Homo sapiens: one gene and its partners. The protein of the gene in region 3 purifies or fractionates together with the protein of the main gene of each other region. This does not show direct contact. Each region holds a gene or a part of one and is shown on either strand. Other genes may lie near its edges.

Region 1 (3,500 bases), 7.9 Mb from region 3:
TAACTGTGTGACTTTGAACTACGAACTGTGAAGTTCATAATGGGGCTATAAGTAAAATGTTAGGAAACACTATAGAAGTCTGATTTAAAGACAAAAGAAAATGGCAAAACCATAGCAGATAGTATTGGCTGCCTACCCAGTCACCACGCCCAATCCTGCATCCCTGCCGCCACCTTGCTGGCAAAGTCCTCCTTTTGTTCCGGTGTTGCCCTGCCCCTCACTTGACTCAGAGGGAAGTCCTGGTTACTCTAAATCAATTGCAGAGTCCTTTGCCTTCCTCTTGTTAGAGCTTGTTTAGGGATAAGTGTGCAGCCCTCTCTAATTCCCATGAAAGGAAAACCACTGGAGATTGTCAGCTCAGCAAAAGACGGTAAGAAGAGCCATAGCCATCTTGGGATCTTGAGGGGAGCTAATTAAGAAAAAGCTACCTTCCGTAAAATGACAAAAAAGAAACAAGGAGAGAACTTACGTCCTTGCTGACATCAAGCCACTGAACTAACCAACCTGAAAGCTACCCTACCCCTTGACCTATAGGAGATAATCAATTTTCCTTAATGTTTTAGCTATTTGGATTTAAGGGTTTTTTTTATTATTATTATTTGTTTGTTTCTTTGTTTAAGACAGGGTCTCAGCCAGGCACAGTGGCTCACGCCTATAATCCCAGCACTTTGGGAGGCCGAGGCAGGCAGATCACAAGGTCAGGAGTTCGAGACCAGCCTGGCCAACATAGAAACCTCATCTCTACTAAAAATACATAAAATTAGCCAGGTGTGGTGGCGGGTACCTGTAGTCCAAGCTACTTGGAGGCTGAGGCAGGAGAATCGCTTAAACCCGGGAGGCGGAGATTGCAGTGAGCTGAGATTGTGTCACTGCACTCCAGCCTGGGCAACAGAGCGAGACTCTGTCTCAAAAAAAAATAAAGACAGGGTCTGGCTCTGCCACCCAGGCCGGAATACAGGCACGATCATAGCTCAATGCAGCCTCAACCTCCCAGACTCAAGAGATCTTCCTCCCACCTCAGCCTCCTGAGTAGCTGAGACCAAAAGCACACGACACCATACCTGGCTAATTTGTTTTGCTATTTTTTGTAGAGATGGGTCTCACTATATTGCCCAGGATGGTCTAGAACTCCTGGCTTCAAGTAATCCTCCTGCCTCAGCCTCCCAAAGTGTTGGGATTATACGTGTGAGCCACCAAACCCAGCCTTTTTTATTTCTTATAGCTGTAACATCATAAGTAGTTCAAAATGAAGAATTTTCTGAGATCATAATCATGATTATATTATCACAAATCTACAAAAACAAACAAACTTTAATACCTTCCCTGCTACTTAAATATCTTGAAGTAATCATGTTTCCAATTTTTCCATCTTCCTGCTGGTTTTTTTACTTTACATATTATAAACATATCCAGAAGTCAAACACTTCCATTTAATAATTTTCAGCATTTCTGGCAACCTTAAAAATTTGAATAAAAGTTGCTTTTAAGGGTTTTCCTACTAAATAAGTCTAAATATCTGGTTGTGGGATATTGTAGAGAGTAACTAAAAGGAATAATAATATTTTCACAAAAAAATAAATTCCAGGGGTTTATCAACCAAATGTTTGTTAAATGAATCCTATTATACAACATTATCATATTATACAATTACAAAGGAGTCCCCCAGAGGGGAAAAACTGGCATCCCTCTATTGAGTATAATAAAACATACTGAAAAATGTAAATCTGTTTTTTAAATTGCCAAAAAAATTACTAAATTTTACACAATGCATAAATTCAAAATTGGAACATTATGCTATGCTATATTCCAAATAAATTAGAAAACAAAAAGTATCAAAAAGGAGGAAATATTACTGTGTCAAAAACTTTAACCATCTTCACAGAGTGAATTCCCACAGCAGAGATAACAATGTCTAACTCTTTAATGACTTAAATTTTTCACCAGCTCAAACACGTTTTCTTTACAACGCTTGCCATAAAGTCTCACCCATTTGTGCCTGCTATAAAAACATCACCACTGTAAATCTGACTGGTCCATTACTTGAGCGCACTAGCCCTTTCCTGTCCACCTTGACCCAGTAACTTACACCTTTATAAGTATACTTGCTCCATACGTGACATGTATACCTTCAACAGACAAGCTGCTTAAGAGAGCCCTGAACATGCTGTTAAGAGTCTTCCAAAGAAGAATCGTTTTAAAATTCTTATAATGAATTTTAAAACCCCAGTGTTCTAAGGTAGGAGTTCAATCACCTCTATCCATGGAGGGAAACAGAATATCTGTTAATTCATTCAAATATTTCATGAGTACCTACCATGTATTGGTACCAGCTAAGCACCAAGATGGCAATAAACAAAGCAAACACGGCCCCTCTCTTCATCAACTCAGCCTAGAGCAAGGGTCAGCAAACATTTTCTGTAAAGGGACACAGAGTAAATATTTATGCTTGCAGGCCATAAGGCCTCTGTCACAACTACTCAACTCTGACACTGTCATATGAAAGCAGCTATAGACAAGTAAATGAATTAATATGACTGTGTCCCAATAAAACCTTGTGAATGAAATTAAAATTTCATAATTTATTAAATAAATTTCTCATGAAATCATATTCTTTTGATTTGTTTCAACCACTTAAAAACGTAAAGACCATTCTTAGCTCGTAAGCCATAAAAAACAGGTAGCAGGTCAGATTTGGCCCATGGGCTGTAGTTTGCCGCCACCTAGTCTAGACATTAATATTAACTGTAAAATTACGTGTTTACTGCTTTAAGTGCTCACAGGGAAAACACATAAGGCTATGAGAGTTTAATGAGGAGACATGGCCTAGTTTGAAGGGATCAGAAAAGGCTTTTCCAAGGAAGTGACTTTCAGACTGAAACTTAAAGCAACCAGCCAAAAGCCAGGGAGCAAAGCAAAGAGCCTCCTAGACAAGTGAACCACATATGCAAAAGCCCTCTAAGAGGAAGGAATACAACCAACTGAAGAATCTGTGAGGCTGCAGTGCAATGAGCAAAGAAAAGCACACCACAAGGTGACCCTATAGAGAGATGGAGAACAGCCACACACAGGGTCTTGTTGTCCAGGGTCAAGGGTTCTGGTCTTTGTCCTAAGAGCAATGGGAAACCATTAAAGGGTTTTAAGTAGGAGAGGAACACAATTAGCTTGGGATTTTTCAAAGATCACCAAGACTGCAATACGAAGAAAAATTAGAAGGGAGCATGAACAGTTACGGAGAGATCTGTAACCAAGGTACTGGGCTGGAGATGACAGAGGCTTGAACCGGAGTGCTGGCAGTGACGTTGAGAAGGTCAAAGAGGCAAGATGTGGTGACTAGATATAGAAGAGTGAGAGGCAGGTTCCCTACAGGACTCGAGTCTCCAGTTTCCACAACCAGGGCATTGGTATCATTCGGTGAACCAGAGATAAAGTACTGAAAAAGCCGGGGGTGAGGGGTACGATTTTGAGGACAGATTTAAACATGCTGAGTTTGAGTTGCCTGT
Region 2 (3,500 bases), on a different chromosome or scaffold from region 3:
GCTAGTAATGAGATCTTGTAACACAAAAGTGTGACTAGAAAAAATAACAGTTTAAGCAAGGCAACCATGAAAGAAAGGTTCTCTAGCTTCTCTAACACAGAAATCTCAGAATAAGGTACCACCAGAATAGGGAGACTTTTAAAATGAGCATCTTACTGAGGAGTCAGCTGCCTTCCCTTCAGTGAGGAAGCCTTACGGCTTAGCCACTCCAATTGTTTCACGGGTATCACACACCTTGCCAGAAACCATGCAGTAAAGGATAGATAGAGACGGGAGTAACAGATCAGATCTATAACATGCCACCTCTATTAATCTGAGACCCAAAGCTAGACAGCTTCCATAATTGTAGCAATTTACATTTATAAAAATACATAATTTCCAAGAGATTTTACACGAATTTGATCCTCTACCACTTCTATGATATAGAGCATTCATTCCATGATGAAGAAATTGAGGCACTTCACTGCTTTATACTAGTTTAACAAGTATTTGTTAGCTGACAGTGGAAGGGCCTGTGCCAAGTTACGACCAATCTCAGGCTAGAATCTAGAGTCATTTCTACAACTAGGCACTACAACAAAATGATTAACAAGATATACTTTCTACCCTCAAGGAACTTGTAATGGGGAAGAGATACTATCACTCTTGGCATCACCTTCAGAACTCTTTTTACTGCTGCTTTATGCCTCAGTTCACTTATAAAAAGCCATAAAAGAAGCCTCTTCCAGCACAAGGCTGAAGTATACCAAACTAAGAAGTCCTTGACAAAGAATAACGTATCTGTTTTATACAAGTATCATAGAAGTTTTAGAGCTGGAAACTTTTTTGTTTTGTTTTGTTTTTTTGAGACGGAGTCTCGCACTGTCGCCCAGGCTGGAGTGCAGTGGCACCATCTCGGCTCACTGCAAGCTCCGCCTCCTGGGTTCATGCCATTCTCCCGCTTCAGCCTCCCGAGTAGCTGGGACTACAGGCGCCCACCACCATGCCCGGCTAATTTTTTGAATTTTTAGTAGAGACGGGGTTTCACCGTGTTGGCCAGGATGGTCTCGATCTCCCGACCTTGTGATCCGCCCGCCATGGCCTCCCAAAGTGCTAGGATTACAGGCACGAGCCACTGCACCAGGCCAGAGCTGGAAACTCTTTAGACATCATCTAGTCCCACTCCTCTTTCCTACCGTCCCCACCCTCCAATTTCCTACACTGAGATCCAAAGAGGTGAAGTGTCAAAGCTTCTAGCATGTTTGTGTCTGCCACTATATCGAAAGCACCAGGGAGGCAGAGGTCATGTTTGTCTTCTTTAGCTTTGATACACAGAGCACAGCACATGTAGCAGGTGATCCAGACATGCCTTCTGGCTTTTTGTTTTGGGTGGGGGGTTTAAAACATGTTTTTAGGCCGGGCACGGTGGCTCATGCCTGTAATCCCAGCACTTTGGGAGGCCGAGGTGGGTGGATCACTTGACGTCAGGAGTTCGAGATCAGCCTGGCCGACATGATGAAACCCCATCTCTACTAAAAATATAAAAAAACTTGCTGGGTGTGGTGTTGCGCACCTGTAATCCCAGCTACTTGGGAGGCTGAGGCGGGGGAATCGCTTGAACTCGGGAGGCGGAGGTTGCAGTGAGCCGAGATCGTGCCATTGCACTCCAGCCTGGGCGAAAGAGTGAGACTCCGTCTCAAAAAAACAAATAAATAAATAAAAATAAAATTTGTTTTTATAGATTCAGGATGCACAAGTGCAGTTTTATGACATGGATATATTGCATGGTGGTGAAGTCCGGGATAAAATGGCCTTTGCATGAACACAAGAATAACTTGACTAAGTGGTAGTACCAGGACTACAACTCAGGTCCTTTGGGCTTCCCGTCCAGGGCTCTAGAGCACAAAGTTTAAAATCGGGAGAGCTGAGATGAACTCTTACATATCCTAACCAAGGAAACACATTTTGTTCATTCGGCGTCGCTGTTGTACATTTCCTATTTGTCCTATTAAACAAAGAGCAAAAGACTGCCAGGCTGACCAGCAACACAGAACACCCAGAGGCTCTTTGGAATATGTCTACCTTTACAGCTATTTAATCTACAACTATAAAATTCACCCTCAGAGAGATATCATCTCTAATTATACACTTGCAGTGAAAGTTTTAGGGCACCAAACCCTATGCAGAACAATACAGTTCTTTTATTTATTTATTGGCAAAGACTGTTGCTTAATGTTTTCAAACCAAGTACTTAGTTATAAGATTAATAATTCTAACATAATTCTAATCATAGAACTAGGAAAAACAACGGAATACAGCATTCAACTACTATATTATGTTAACAAGAAAAGATAAATATAACAAAAGGATATTAAAGCTGTCACCACTCCAGTAGCAGCACCCATTGCAAAAGATCCACTGAAGATTCCAAGGAAGATCCCAATAGACTTGAACATCGCTGTGACATCAAAGGTGTGACTGTTGTCTCCAGCTGGCTGGTATGCCACTATTGAGCTACAGAAGAGAGACTGCTTTTACTTCTGAAAACAACCTTTACTTTTAAAAAAACATTATGTAGTATAGAGCTTGAAAGATGAAATTAGAGGGAGAAGAAAAACAAGCTTTCGATTGGAATTGCCAAAATAAGGACAAAATTACCCAAAAATCCTGCAATGTATCTGGCTAGCAAGAAAACTTGGCTTTCCCTTAAATGTTAATTTCGGGGGGGGGGTAGAACATTGTAAAATCCTCTATATGAAAATTGCACCAAGCTTTTTCCCCCATCCCCAAGATACTGTGCAGTATTATTCTTTTGTGATTCTGTTTCAGAATTACTAGTACTGAGTGTCCGAAAGCCTTAACATACTAATGTGAACAAACTAATGAAAAATCCCACTTGTTTCCAGTAGAGGCATAAGAACATAAAGAACATTATTCAATACTCAACCCAGTCACATTTTGTTTTTCCTATGAGAAAAAAAGGTAACTGAAGGACCCTTCCAACTTTTAGAATTCTAGAATGGGCCAAATGCCTAATATCTATTCATTCACTGAAATGGACTATTATAGGAAAAAGCACTCGAAAGACCTCCCAAGGAATTAGAATCCACTCAACAGTACTTTCAGCATAACCAGCTGGATCTTCCACCTCAAACTTCTGAAAGAAAGTCACTCTATACCAGGCCAAGACAGGCAATTATAGGAGATGCTCTCCATCTTGAACTCACAGTCCAAACCTGGTCTGAAAAAGCTTCTTTTGTAACAGTTACCACCCCAGGAAATAGAAATGCCTGAGAAAATTGCTGTTGCCAGCAGGTCTTTGGCAACGGTGCTTACCGTTACTAAATCAGTTCTCATCTCAGTTAATTGAGAGACCAGCATTATAAAAAGTCCAGACTCAACAACATCATACAAATCACGTCAAAGAAAAGAAGGAAAAACACATTCCTAAAAATATAATGAATTCTCCCTGTGGTTGCTGCAATGTTTTTTTCTGATTCAAGGCTGAAAAATGTTTGCTA
Region 3 (4,183 bases):
TGTCACCAACCCCTGCCTGCGCCTACCCAGGGACTGGGCTCACTGGAGACCGTGGAGCTGCAGGACAGAGAAAGAAATGTGAAAGCATCTGATTGGACAGAACAGCCACACAGCTCTGTGTCTTCTGAGGGACTGCATGTGCCTGTACCACGTTCACCTTCCATTTATTATGTGTCACTCCCTGTGACATCTCCGCAGGTGCCTACTATTATTAACCTCTTTAACAAGGAAGGTACATAAAAGCCCACTTATCTCCCCATGGTCACTCGGCAATCAGGTACCCAGAGCCAGAGAGTTTTCTGGAAAGCCTGTACTGGTTCTCAAACCTTAGTGTACTGGGTGTTTCTGGGACAGGTGTTTCTAGGACAGGTGTTTGTTGGGGGTCACACTTTGAGAAATCATAGGAACCATGATGGTCTCCTGTCAACCAGTAGGGACTGGTCAAGTAAATTATATGAGAGCTTCAAAATGGAAATCTAGGCGGTCACATCACAACATGATAAAGATCATGTTGAAGACTTTAAAAAATGTTGAAGAGTTTAAAAATAAGAATAGCTTTTACCCCCCACCCCCAATGGCACTAGCTCAATGTAAAAAGCTGACACAGTACCGAAAAGAAAGTAAAAAATCATTTTGAGTCTTACTACTCAGAGATCTCTCCTGTTAGGCTTTCAAAAAAAAAAAAAACATTTTGACACAGCAAAATGTTTACGCAAGATTGATATACAAAACCAAACAGGTACAAACAATACTGTGAAACTCCATTTACACCGGAGATGGCCTCATCCTCAGCAGAAGCCTCTAGCACCATCTCTGCCAGGTAGAGGTAGGGGTGACACCCATCACCCCTTCTCTGAGTCCATTTGGTAAAGCAGATGGTATGAATGGAATGTCCCTAGTGGCTAATTAATCAGTCAGGGAGTTGCCATAACTGGTTTCCTTCTATCATCCTTGGGCCTGGGCCAGTTATCTTAGGAGCCCAAAACAGCCCAGACATGTTTTGCCATAGACCTGAACACCCACAGAACAGTAAGAGTAATTTGAAAGATTTCTTTTTGTTGTGCTAGGTCTGTGCAGACCCTGGCGATACAGAGATGAATGGGACAAGTCTTTGGCCCTTAGGGAGCTACCTGTCTATGAGGGGGGACATTTAAGTGAGCAAATAATTACAACAGGTTGTAGGTCAGAGAAAGGGAGGCACAGTGGAGGCTCCCTGGGGGTGCTGGGGACCAAGCCGCCTGAGAGACACCTGCCCTGGCCAGAGAGCAGTTGGCTAGGATGGTTCTGAAGCCAGAGAAGCAGGAGATAGCTGGGAAGATGAACTGTATGGTTTGTTCAGAGCTGGAAACACCCACGGAGTCCGAAGCCCCAGAGGGACGAAGACTCACCTGTCACTCAACCCTTTCTACTTTTGCCTTTTTGCTAGAGGAAAAGATGGAAGTCAGCACACCCTGACTTGAGAGAAGCGATCTGGGCTACAGTTTTCAATTAAAGGGCTTTGTGGTCAGATAGGCAAGGGGCAGGGCCCCAATCTTGTTTTCCTACTTGGGATGAATCTTGGCCTCTGAAAGTTTAACTGATTTGTGCTTTTTTCAGGGTGGGGCTGTGGTGAAGGAGGGAGCAATCCCTGGAACTTGTTTTCTTCTATATTTCTTCATTTGGGGTTACTTACACTTTGAGAAAAGCTTCCTTATTTGTAAACAAGGGTTGGGAAGGAGATGAAGGTCCCAGTTGCTAGGCTGACTGGCTGGGGAACTTTTGCAAGTGCTTTCCATCTATTTCCCTTTTTAAAGGACGGCTGATCATTTCACTAAATGGCCTACATACACTTCCTATATCTTTTTTTTTTTGTTTTGTTTGTTTGAGGACGTCTTGTTCTGTTGCCCAGGCCGAAGGTCATGGCTCACTGCAGCCTGGAACTTCTGGGCTCAAGCAATCCTCCTCATCCTGCCTCAGCCTCCGAGTAGCTGGGATTACAGGCGCCTGCCACCACTTGTGGCTAATTTTTGTAGAGACGGGGTCTAGCTATGTTGCCCAGGCTGAGCTTCCTGTATCTTAAATTCTATGACATTCTTCATGGGATGAAGAAAATGATATGACTTCTTCAAAGACGAACGAGTCTTGCAAGCTGTCGTTCTCTCCAGCCCAGGTGAACCCTACCAAGAAAAACAGCTTGTCTGAAACGCTGTTTTCTGACTGAAAGTGTAGGGAAGCTGGAAAGTAGCTGGTTCTGTTTTATTCCCCGAAGAATCAGGCTACAAACTTGACAAGAGCAGGGCCGGGGATGTGCGCTCGGTGTGCGCGCGGGGCTGCGGGCTGAAATGCGCCGGGGGTTTCCCTTTCGTGGAAGCCTTCCTGGAATCTCCCAAGGCGCTGCTCTCCGCCCTGGGGCGCCGGCCAGAGGTCCGGGGCCGGGGGCCCCGGACCCAGCTGTCTTCAGCCACCGCGCCCCCACTCTCAAGCCGCGCCACCGCGGGCGCTCGGTAACTGCTCGCCTAGCCGGACTGCCTCCCAGCAGGAGGGACAAATAAAGAGGAAAACCACAGAGCCACCGCAACCTATACCTGCCGCGTCCCCCAACCCTGTTCCAGCTGTTGGCAATGCTGCCAACACACCCTTCACCAGCCCCGGGCCAGCGGCAGCGAGGATTCGGGGTGCCGAGATGGCAGCTCCAGGAGACCCCGCCCCAACCGCCCACCCTCTTCACCGTAGCGCCCGGCCCTTACCGCCATGGTGAGTGCGCAGGGCGGGCGCCAGGGCCGCGTCTGCTCGCTCGGGTCTCCTCGCTCCGAGTCAGTTCAACCGCCGCCGCCGCCGCCGCCGCGATAGCTACCCTGGCCGCACGGATCACGTGGTCCGGGCGAGGCGGCGCGCGGGCGCCTGGGAGTTGTGGTCCCCACACGCGCCCTACTTCGGCGTCCTCGGGCGCGCCCCCTGGCCGAGACCCAGGCGCCTCGCCCCAGGTTCCCAAGGGCTGAGGCTTGGCGTTCCCGGAGTCGCGAGCGAGAGGGACCACCTGCTGCCCTCTGTCTTCGCCCTTCCTGTTTTGCACTTGGCTTGTCTTGGCGATTATGAGAATGTTTATTGCTCATTGTAATAAACTACCCCAAGCGTAACATATATTGAGTTGAAATGGGCAAGTCCGTGCTATGGACGCAATAGCAACACATTTGGAGTAAATTAAGTCAATTATGCCCTAGATTTTTAGTGTAGTCATTACAAGATAATTACATTTTTCTTTTTAGAAAAATATTTTCCAATCTGATAAGCCAAAAGGAATACACCCGTGTAATTTTGTTTTTCTTTGATTACTAGGGTAGTAAACTATTTTTCTTACGGGTACTTCCATTTCTGTGTATTGCCTGTTCATTTCACTGATCCAGTTTTTTGATGGGGAGTTTCTTGTAGGGTGAGGGATTTTTAATGGTTATTGATTCTTAAGCATATTTAGGAACCCTTTGCTAATCAGCCTATGAGTAAAGAGGCTCTTCAGAGAAACCTTACTAAGGACAGTATTAGCAGAGACCTTGAGCCTGGAGCTAACCTCAGTTCACATCCATACGCATCAACTATTGGCTTTGGGACCGTAGGCAAATAGCTTACATCTCTGAACCTCAGTTTTCTGGTCAGTAAAATGAAAATAATAATAAAATCTATGTCATAGGGATTAAATGAAAACATACATGTTAAATTATCATGTAACCTGGCAGTGGGAGCTTGTTCAGTAAATGGTAGAATCCTCAGGGTCACACAGCTTTTTTTCTTTTCTTTGAAACAGAGTCTCGCTCTGTCGCCCAGGCTGTAGTGCAGTGGCGCGATCTTGGCTCACTGCAACCTCCATCTCCCGTGTTCAAGCAATTCTCCTGCCTCAGGCTCCCGAGTAGCTGGGACTACAGGCGCGCACCACCATGCCTGGTTAATTTTTGTATTGTTAGTAGAGACGGGGTTTCACCATATTGGTCAGGCTGGTCTTGAAATCCTGACCTCGTAATCTGCCCGCCTCGGCCTCCCAAAGTGCTGGGATGCTGGGATTACAGACGTGAGCCATCTTGCCCGGCCCACACAGCTTTTAAGATTCTCAGTCTGAAAGCTAATGGAGCAGCTTCAGGGAGAGAACATGGGCCGTGGCACTGTGATGGGGCTGGAGAGGGAGAGCTGCTGCTGTCATGGTTTACTGGGCCAT
Region 4 (3,500 bases), on a different chromosome or scaffold from region 3:
TGATTCCCTTTGAAGTTCCAGATGGATCCCAGATGGATAACTGTCATTTCCTTCAGCTGAGTCTCTGGGTGAAACGTTATGTTGCTCTTTACTTTCTGAAGACATTTCTGGAGATAGATGGTTCAGCTTCCTACACCAGAGAAAATACCAGTGTTCATCAATAAAGTAATTCTCAGTGCTCACATATACTAACAATTCTATTTGTCATTTCATGAGAGTTAAAAGGAATTCAGTTTTGGAATAGGTATCTTATGTCCCTTTTCCTTAATTGAGCCTCATTTGTCTTGGTTAGGGGGAAAAAAAAAGACCAGAACCAGACCTTAAACAGCCAAGTCAAAGCAAATAACTGGCTGGGTACAGGACTTCCCAAGAGTATAAACCATTAAGGATTCTTCTCCATATATGCCTGGCTCCCCCTGGCAGTTTTTCCTCCTGAAAAGATGTAAGGGCAGCCTGTCTCCTTTCCATACATATGCTACCAGCGGTCTTCTTCCCAGGTTTTTCACCTCCCAGGCAGACTGCAAAATAGGATCTGGTCTTAACCCCTACCTTAACCTTAATGCCTGCCTACCAGTCCCTGAAACAAGGAAGATGGTCCTGTTTTATTTTTTGGTCCCTTTTTAAACAACCTGCTAAATGTTGAAAATAAATAGAAAAGTAGGTTGTAGGGTAAAGATAAATGTTTTTAGCAATAAAAAGAAACTAGGGCAGAATGCATTTGCGTCTTTGAACAGTACTCCCTTGCTTGGTAGGAAAGAGGAGAGAGAAGTCAATATGAGGGTGCTGAATGTAAAGGGCATGAAGAGGGTCGATGGGCCAAGTGTCTCATACATGCTGTAGAAGGTTTTTGTCTATTCCACTATGTTCTAGTATGGAGTCATCTGCCCTGTGGGCAGGGCCTACATTCATGCAAGATTCACTTTACTATTCTAAGTACACACACTGAAACACAGGTTAAATAGAGAAATAATGTTGCCCTGCACTTCCACTTGGAGGCAATACAGGTGATCCTTCATCTCTGTGTCCTAGACTATAAAACTAATGCCATAAGATCTACCATGAGGAACTATAGGAAAACAAAGGAGGTAAAAATAGCCAGAAAAAGAGAAAGGACAACAACAAATAGTAAGTCTAATAACCGGAGTAAGAGAAGAAAATGAACCAGGCTCTCAAAGGAATAGAACATAAATTGTTTACCAAATGCTTCATGAATTAGTGCCTTTACATAAGCTGTTTACTTAGCTTAGAATGGCCATCCACCTCTTTGCCTGTCAAGATCCTAATAATTTTTTAAAACCCAGTTACAATGCTACCTTTTCCAGAAAGCACTAACCAATCTCCCCTAGCCCAAATGAAATACTACACCCTCTGTGTCCCATAGCATGTTGCACCTCCATTAGAGTACTAACCACACTCTTGTATTAGTGAAGTAGGAATCTCTCTAGCTCCTGGAGGAAAGACATCTTGTTCATCAGTGTAATCTGAATGGAATGTAGTAACGCTGAGATAGCAGGCTTACAAAACATTTGAATGAATGAATGAACAAATGAACAAACATTTGTGACTGTGGCCAGATAGAGACATTTTTTTTTTTTTTTTTGAGACAGAGTTTCACTCTGTCGCCCAGGCTGGAGTGCAGTGGTGCAATCTCAGCTCACTACAACCTCCACCTCCTGGGTTCAAGCAATTCTCTTATCTCAGCCTCCTGAGTAGCTGGGATTACAGGTGCATGCCACCACGCCTGGCTAATTTTTGCATTTTTAGTAGAGACAGGGTTTCACCATATTGGTCAGGCTGGTCTCGAAGTCCTAACCTCAGGTGATCCATCCGCCTCAGCCTCCCAAAGTGCTGGGATAACAGGCACGAGCCACTGCACCCAGCCGAGACAATATATTTTAGATGAAGGACTCAGGAAGTTTCTTGTTTTGGAACTGACAGAAAAATGGGCCCTTGTGAAGTTCTATAAACCTTACGTTACCAAACTGCCAAAATCCAGGACCTATGACTTATTCAAGAACACAAGATATGTAAAAGTAACCCATATTCATTTTGTTTAGGTTTAACATGAGTAAATATTTTGATGGTCTTCTGAAGTAGATAAGGAAAGAAAGAATAGACTTAGGTGACCACTGACCCTGAGAAAATCAATCAGGTTGATGGATACACCCAGCAGCTCTTTGCTCTACAATGCAACCAGTCTGTGACTCTCCTGTCATTTCCTGCTTTCTAGAGCTAGCTTGAGTGCACCAACGTCCTATTTTGGAGAGCTCTTGGTGATTTCTGGGTGAAAAGGTTTTTCCAAACCTAAGATATGCAAAAGAGACATAAGAAAAAACTAAGGGAATCCAAATCTTGCCCAGTATGGCTGCTATCTGGGAAGAATATAGATAAAAATTCACATAGAAAGTAAAACAAAGAAATGGAAACTGTAAGAAAAAATCAAATAAGGAATGCTAAAAGTGAAAAACACAGTAACAGAGATGATGAATGCCTTCGATAGGATCATTACTAGACCTGAAAGCCAAAGAAAGAATCGATGAACTCAAAAAGACAGATAAACAGAAATTAGCTAAACTAAAACGCAGAAAAGTTTAAATAACGAAACAAAACAAAAAACCCCCAATATCAACAATGTAACATAACATCCAAGAGCTGCGGGACACATCAAAGTATCAAACATATGCATAATTAGAATACCAAAAGAAGAGAGAGAATGGGCAGAAGAAATATTTCAAGATATAATGGCCAAGAAATTTCCAAAATTAATAAGAGACATCAAAATATAGATCCAAGTAACCTGAGGCCAGGAGTTCAAGACCAGCATGACCAACATGGTGAAACAGGGTCTCTACTAAAAATATAAAATTAGTCAGGCATGGTGGCACACGCCTGTAATCCCAGCTACTCGCGAGGCCGAGGCAGGAGAATCGCTGGAACCCAGGAACTGGAGGTTGCAGTGAGCCGAGATCACGCCATTGCACTCCTGTCTGGACAGCAAGAGGAAAACTCCTTCTCAAAAAAAAAAAAAAAAAAAAGGCCGGGTGCAGTGGCTCACACCTGTAATTCCAACACTTCCGGAGGCCAAGGCAGGCAGATCACAAGGTCAAGAGATCAAGACCATCCTGGCCAACATGGTGAAACCCCGTCTCTTCTAAAAAAATACAAAAATTAGCTGGGCATGGTGGTGCGCTCCTGTAGTCCCAGCTACTCAGGAGGCTGAGGCAGGAGAATTGCTTGAACCTGGGAGGCGGAGGCTGCAGTGAGCCAAGATCGCGCCACTGCACTCCAGCATGGTGACAAAGCAAAACTCTGTCTCAAAAAAAAAATACATATATATATAATATATAATCTATCTCCAAGAATCTTAGAGAATTCCAAGAAGAGTAAATATAAAAACAAAAAGAAAACAAAAACCCTCACCTACACATATGATATTCAAGCTGCTGAAAACAAAAGATAAAGAGAAAATCCTGAAGACAAAGAAAAAACATATATTACTT
Region 5 (2,629 bases), on a different chromosome or scaffold from region 3:
CCACCTCAGCCTCACAAAGTGTTGGGATTACAGGCGTGAGCCACCGTGCCCGGCCACAAGATGCATTTTTCACACCTGCCACTTTGCCTCATCTGTCACCTTCACAGCTCCTAAGGGAGTCGGAGCTTGTGCCACCACCGCTACAGAGGATTAAGGGGTTTCCCTCTGGGGGCTCCAGAATATGCAAGCCAGGGTGTTTTTGGCTGCTTGAGCAAAGGATAAGACCTGCACTTCCCTGCTGGGTCCTCAGCCCTGAACATGGCAACCGACTGCTCCATGAGCTGCTGACTGCGGGTTTCTGAATGCGGGGCGGGGACGCCGTGCCTCCCTTTCCTGCTCACCTGTGTTTTCTGTACAAGCCCGTAACAGTAGTCAAATAAGGGAAACCAAAAAAAGGTATGTGAAAAATACAAGGGCCAAATTATATAGCTTTGGTTTTTGTGGAAACTCACTCTGAAAGAAAAATTGTCAATATTGAGAAAAAGGCTTCAGAGGCAAACTTCTGAGGGGCATTTTTTATTATAAATTTAATATGGTTGATTAATGAAAAATGACAATGAAGTACCAAGAAAATGTTTGTCAATATAAAAATTTTAGCAGCATTTCCATAGTTTCAGGCTCCAACATTAGTCGTACTTCCTCCCTCCCGCTATCAAAAAAAGAAGAGACTCCAATGGGATGGAGTAGAGCCTGGGGGTGTCCAGCTTTGTGTGGGCCTCAGAGAAATACTCCATCCAGCATCCAGGATTCTCCCTCCCTCTCATCCCTGAAGTGCTAGAATGTCAAAGCACAGAAAAAGCCTCCTTTGTGCTGACATTGGAGACAAGGATCCGTTCTTCAGGCTGCAGGGAGAATTGGGATAGAAACTGACTCTGGACTTGACATGTAGTGCTCAGCCACACGCCCTCACCAACACCTGTGCATTCTCTACTCTGATGACAAGGAAAGGCCACTGCAAGGTGGGTGGGATCTGGGGTGTGGTGGCGGTGGCACTGCTGGTGGGAGCCACGGCGTGGCGCATGCTGGGTGACGGTGTCACCGCCACACACTGCTCTGGGGCAGGCGTGATCAGTGAGGGTGGGAGACAGACAATGTGAAAACGTAACACTGGCCAATGATTCCCCTGCTTCTTTGGTACTTTCCAAAATTCTCTGATCAAAAAAGTATAAGGGAAGCACACCATTAAAAAATTACAGTTTTACGTATTTACAAAAGCAATGATGATATATTACACAACAATCAATACACAGTATATGAACAAATCTTCAGTGAAAGCACTTGTGAGCTCCCGTCCCGCTGTCATCCCACAGCACGCGACCTCTGCAGGGTCAGGTTGCCTGTTCTGAAGCTCATTACCTTACAGTATATTAGAAGGCAAAAACATCATTTGGAAAAAAAATCATTTTCCAATCTACACTTTCCTTTTAGAAGGCTTAACATTTGCCATCGAAATAGTTATGTACAAGATTTATTGAATATTGACTTCTAGGCAATGATCTCCACTCCCAACTTGAATATGTTTGAAATAATGCTGCCTATTCTATGGATACAATAGATATTTAATATATAAGTAACTGCACCACATTATATCACCACGATACCAGTTTAATACATATTATTATGTACAGTAGTTAAGTTAGCTCGGGAAGGTGAGTCTCCGCAGCCTGGGTGAACAGTGTGGGATGGAGCCTCCTGGAAGGGAGGCAGAGAGCTGGTCATGAGAGAGCCGTGCACGGCCAGGATGTGTATGTGCGGCACGAGCACACATGTCTCCCACACGCCAACACCAGACCATCCCTTTAGCTGTTTGCAGCTGGAAGAAGACAAATCACACATATGGAAGGATCCCATACATGAGAAGAGCCATGACAGCAGCGCTGAACAGCCCAGCCACAGGGACGGTCACGAACCAGGCCACGAAGATGTTCCGAAAGAGGCGCCAGTCCACAGCCTTGCGGGAGCGGATCCAGCCCACGGCCACCACCGAGCCCACCTGTGGGAGCAGACATTGCAAAGTAAAAACAGGTGAGCCACAAAGGCTACACTCTACCAATGTACATGGGCTAATCTCAGAAACAAGCTCTAGTACAACATTACCCAGTCCCCTACATTTGTTAAAGCTTTTAAAATAGCTTAGATTTTAGGTAGAATTGTTTGGGGATTCTTCTCTTCAGCATATAGCTCTTTATATAGTTGTTTTATATAGTTGTTTTGAGACAGTCTCACTCTTCACCCAGGCTGGAGTGCAGTGGTGTGATCTCAGCTTACTGCAACCTCCATCTCCCAGGTTCAAGCAATTCTCCTGCCTCAGCCTCCTGAGCAGCTGAGATTACAGGCGCATGCCATCACCCTTGGCTAATTTTCATATTTTTAGTAGAGACGGGGTTTCACCATGTTGGCCACGCTGATGTGGAACTCCTCACCTCAAGTGACCCTCCCTCCTTGGCCTCCCAAAGTGCTGGAGTACAGTGGTGCAATCTCAGCTCACTGCAAGCTATGTCTCCCAGGTTCAAGCGATTCTCCTGTCTCAGCCTCCTGAGTAGGTGGGATTACAGGCAAGCACCACCACATCCAGCTAATTTTCATATTTTTTAGTAGAGATGGGGTTTCGCCATGTTGGTCAGGCTGG
Region 6 (4,222 bases), on a different chromosome or scaffold from region 3:
AGAAACACCCAAGAATGATCAATAAATACTGAAAAAAATTAAAAAAAAAAAGAATTAGGGAACTTGAGAAGAGATTAATAGAATTTACACAATCTGAACAACACAGAGAAAAGAAACAGGGAAAGAGCCTAAGGAAATTATGAAACACCAACATAAGATCCAACTTTCTTAACACTGGAAATCCAAATGGAGAGAAGAGAGTGGGAGCAACTCTCCATTATTTCAACAACAACAAAGAGTAGTTGAAGAAATAATGGCTAAAAACTCCCTAAATTTATTCGAAAACCAAAAAAAAAAAAAAAAACAAAACCAAACATGAAATCCAAAGAAATCCATGATAAGACACATCATAATTAAACTTCTGAAAACTAAAGACAAAGTAAAAACTTGAAAGCAGCCAGAGAGAAATGACACATTATCTACAGGGGAACATCAATCTGAGTGACAGCAGCATCCTAATCAGAAACCATGGACACAAGAAGGAAGCAGCACAAGATTTTTCAAGTGCTAAGAAAAGAATGGCAGGCTAGCAGCCATGGCTCACGCCTTAATCCTAACACTCTGGGAGGATGACACAGGAGGATCACTTGAGACCAGTTGGGCAATATAGCAAGATGCTGTCTCTTCAAAAAAAATTTTTTTTAATTAGCCAGGCATGGTGGTATGTGCCTATAGTCCCAGCTACATGGGTGGATTGCCTGGGCCCAACAGATCAAAGCTGTAATGAGCTACGATCGCATCACTAACTCCAGCCAGGAGAACAGAGTGAGACCCTGTCTCAAAAAAAAAAAAAAGGAAGAACAATAGAAAAAGGGGAAATATGCGTATGTGGTATATGCAATACACTATCTTTATCATCATGAGTTTTATAAACCATATTTGATGACTGACACAAAAACTGTAACACCATCTGATACCCAGGACATGATACTTAAAGTGAGGACCTAAGTGAAAGAAGGGTTTCCACACTTGACTGGAAGTGGTGAAATACAGCAATACACCATGGTGATAAGTCACATTTGTATATTGTAATACCCAGAGCAAGCACTGTAAAAACTATACCAACACCTAATCTCAAACACACTATAGGGATACCAAAAAAGTGTCCAAGTAACCCAAAAAGTGGCAAAAAAAAAAAAAAAAAGAAACAGGAATCAGAATGAGAATCAGAAGAAACAGAACACAGATAATAAATGGCACACTTATATTCTAACATATCAGTAATTATCGTAAATGTAAATGGTGTAAATATGCCAATCAAAAGAGAATGGCATAGTTGATAAAAAATATAAGATCCAACAAGAAACTCACTTCAAATTCAACATAGGTAAGTTGAAAGCTAATACCATGCAAACATTAATCCAAAAAAAAGCATAAATGGCGACATCAATATCTAATAAAGATTTTAGAGCAAAGAAAATTACCAGAGACAGAGGAACATTAACAATGAAAGGAACAATCCACCGAGATGACAAAAAATCTTGAATGTGCGTGCACCACATGACAGTGCTTCAAAGTACATGAGGCAAAAATGGATTCAATCTGTGATGGAAACCTATTTTGAAACAGGTGGCACATTTCCAACTAAAGAACTCCTAAAATTAAACAGATTTACTAACACAATTACTGTTATAGGTAACACCAGAACCCACTTCCAACCAAGCACTGAAAAAAGGGCACCTTACACATGTTCTACTGTAATCTCCAATAATCCCGTAAGAAAAAATATTATCCAGCATTTTACAGATGAGGAAACCATGGCTTGAGTTTAAATAAGTTACCCGAGAGTAAATCGCTAGTGGGTAAACACTCAAATCAGCGTTATAACATTCCAGTATGTACTTTGAGCTATATGTTAGTCTCTCAAATGGCCGAAAACAAAAATTATTCAAAAACTCAAATTCTGAAGCAACTACATATTGAGTGAAATTATGTTTTCGACAATTCCTCTGGAATAAAACTTCAAAAACTATAAGAAGCAACACTTTTTAAAATTTTCTTTTCTTTGAATGAGAAATGTTAAATATGAGCTAAATGCAATCTCGAGTATGAAAGGTCTGTACACTAATTCTACTGCTAACCTGTGACCCCACTAAACAAGTTAACCGTTCTCAATACCCCATTTCCCTTTCGTAAAAGCAAAATTACTTGTCGACAAAAAGCACTTTGTATATATATGTTTAAACAAAAAGTGTGCCTAGCAAAGATATCGAAATGTCGAAGAGAAGTCATTTCAATAAGAAGTGTGTTTTTAACAAAGCAATTAAAAGTTACATCCGTCACCTTCACAATTCACAGGGCTACAAGAACAAGTTTCGGAGACTCTGAAGTATCCGAGAAGTTAGCACTTTTGATCCCCGTTTACTTTAGGAGAGCAGCCACCCCTCAACACTGGACCGCGGTTCTCTGCTCCCGTTCTGGCTCCTACGCTCGGCCCAGGCGTCCCGGGGATGCAGCCGCTCGCCCCGGCAGCTGCCCGCGGCCCTCACCACCGGCGGACGCCACAGCTGCGGCGCGCTCAGAACGCCAAGGACTCCCGGCTCCCAGCGAACAGATGGGGCGCGCCGGTAGCGACCCCAGACCCGCCCGGCTCCGGGTTCCTGCGGTGGGCTGGGGGCCCCGGGGAGCGTCGGCGGGGAACGGGGCCAGTGCCGCCTCGGTTACCTGCTGTGCCGGTCGGCTCCCGGCCTGGGCCCCGCGGCGCTGTAGTAGGCCGCGCGTTTGCGGTTGGCTGCGGCCGCCGCTGCGCTACGCACCGGGTAAAGCGGGATCTGGTCCGCCATGTTCCGACCGCCCCTTTCCCGCCCCTCCCACTTTCCCCTCAATTCGCCACCTTTTCCCCGCCCTCTCCCCTCAGCGCCAACCCCGGCTGAGGCGCCGCCTGCGGGCCTTCCCCGCCTCCGCCAAGCGGCGAGGTCCGATGACGTAACGAGCGGCGGCGCGGAAGGTGTGGCGTCCCTAGGCCCCGCCCTCGTTTGGCGTCGGCGCACGATGACGTGCCCAGGGTGGCAAAAGCGCGGCGCAGGAGGCAGTGGAGTCCGGGCAATGACGTCACGAGTGGCTAAAGCTGGGACGGGGGGCGTCGCGTTCCGAGGCCCCGCCCCCGCCTCGTGACGGGCCCGATGACGTCACCGATCGGCGGGGCGGGGCGCGCGTGCGCCACAGGCTGGCCTTCCGGTAGCGCGCGAGGGCCTGCACGTGGGTCGTGGTTCGACCCGGCGCGCTCTGGTCCGCGGGTGGAAGGGCCTCGCAGCCGTCTCCTGGAAGCTCTGCCGGGGACACGCGTGGGCGCGCGCGGCCTCCTTAGCGGTCCAGAGCCTGCGCTGCCAGTAGTACGCGCGCCCCATGGCTGTGTGGGGCCCCACGCGCCCTCCTCGCCGCGCGGCTTCTTGCTTCCGCCCCGCGCTTCTCCAGCCTGCCTTCGGTGCCCGCTTCCTGCCCGCGCCCTTGGAACCGCTGGTGTCTGTGCGTTCACAGGCAGGGTCGTGCTACGTGGCCCGGGCCCCCAAAGCGCCGCGACTGCAGGCGCGCCCACCGCGCCGGGCTGAATTTCCGAGATGTTCTTGTCCTGCTTCCTCACTGCTGCTTCCTTCTTTCTCTGGTTCTGGGTCTTTAGCTTGATTCCACATCCCCCACCTCTAGGCCCACAGCCTGCTGAAAAGTCCTATAGGCGACTGTCAGAAACGAGGTTTACACCCTCAGTCTACACAAGAAAGCAAAACGATATTGAATAAACGAATACACGGCTTTGGTTGGGTTTGTTTCATTTCCTGTCCCGAGGACAGCTCCCTTCCACCTCCATCACCCGCTGCAGCTGGAAGCCGGCAAGCTGATGCACCGCTCACCTCACGTATTAATGGTTTACTCACTTTGTGTTTTTTTAAACAATGTTTTTCTGATATTCCATTTTCATGACATATAAATTTTGTCTATGTGTTTGAAACACTGTTCAACATGAACTTATAAATGCTTTTCTTTTCTGTTTTTTGGAGATGGGGTCTCTGTTACCCAGGCTGGAGTGTAATGTTTTGATCACGGCTCACTACATCTTCCACCTCTCAAGGTTCAGGTGATCTTCCCCCATCTGCATGTATTACTTTTTCATTATAAAAAATGGTCTTTATGAATATGAATATTCTTAATTTGTTGCTGCCACTCTGATTGCCAGTTTGCTTCTCAGCTGCTTTTCATGTAACCTGAATACATGCCACTCCACAGACAC

The links.
Region 1: the proteins of SLC31A2 (region 3) and SLC44A1 purify together in Homo sapiens (affinity purification with mass spectrometry; one large-scale study listed by BioGRID and IntAct). This does not show direct contact.
Region 2: the proteins of SLC31A2 (region 3) and SLC9A6 purify together in Homo sapiens (affinity purification with mass spectrometry; one large-scale study listed by BioGRID and IntAct). This does not show direct contact.
Region 4: the proteins of SLC31A2 (region 3) and SLC26A2 purify together in Homo sapiens (affinity purification with mass spectrometry; one large-scale study listed by BioGRID and IntAct). This does not show direct contact.
Region 5: the proteins of SLC31A2 (region 3) and SLC20A2 purify together in Homo sapiens (affinity purification with mass spectrometry; one large-scale study listed by BioGRID and IntAct). This does not show direct contact.
Region 6: the proteins of SLC31A2 (region 3) and ATP9B purify together in Homo sapiens (affinity purification with mass spectrometry; one large-scale study listed by BioGRID and IntAct). This does not show direct contact.

Annotation. Positions count from the first base shown.
Region 1 is NC_000009.12:105,251,151-105,254,650, reverse strand, and holds part of SLC44A1 (choline transporter-like protein 1), read right to left. Parts: intron 1-3,500.
Region 2 is NC_000023.11:136,009,435-136,012,934, reverse strand, and holds part of SLC9A6 (sodium/hydrogen exchanger 6), read right to left. Parts: intron 2,494-3,500; coding exon 2,352-2,493; intron 1-2,351. UniProt on the Homo sapiens protein: Endosomal Na(+), K(+)/H(+) antiporter. Mediates the electroneutral exchange of endosomal luminal H(+) for a cytosolic Na(+) or K(+).
Region 3 is NC_000009.12:113,149,624-113,153,806, reverse strand, and holds the start of SLC31A2 (protein SLC31A2), read right to left. Parts: upstream 2,801-4,183; 5' UTR 2,733-2,800; coding exon 2,727-2,732; intron 1-2,726. UniProt on the Homo sapiens protein: Does not function as a copper(1+) importer in vivo. However, in vitro functions as a low-affinity copper(1+) importer.
Region 4 is NC_000005.10:149,974,258-149,977,757, reverse strand, and holds part of SLC26A2 (sulfate transporter), read right to left. Parts: intron 131-3,500; 5' UTR 106-130; coding exon 1-105. UniProt on the Homo sapiens protein: Sulfate transporter which mediates sulfate uptake into chondrocytes in order to maintain adequate sulfation of proteoglycans which is needed for cartilage development.
Region 5 is NC_000008.11:42,415,975-42,418,603, forward strand, and holds the end of SLC20A2 (sodium-dependent phosphate transporter 2), read right to left. Parts: intron 1,994-2,629; coding exon 1,829-1,993; 3' UTR 501-1,828; downstream 1-500. UniProt on the Homo sapiens protein: Sodium-phosphate symporter which preferentially transports the monovalent form of phosphate with a stoichiometry of two sodium ions per phosphate ion.
Region 6 is NC_000018.10:79,067,972-79,072,193, reverse strand, and holds the start of ATP9B (probable phospholipid-transporting ATPase IIB), read right to left. Parts: upstream 2,801-4,222; 5' UTR 2,784-2,800; coding exon 2,665-2,783; intron 1-2,664.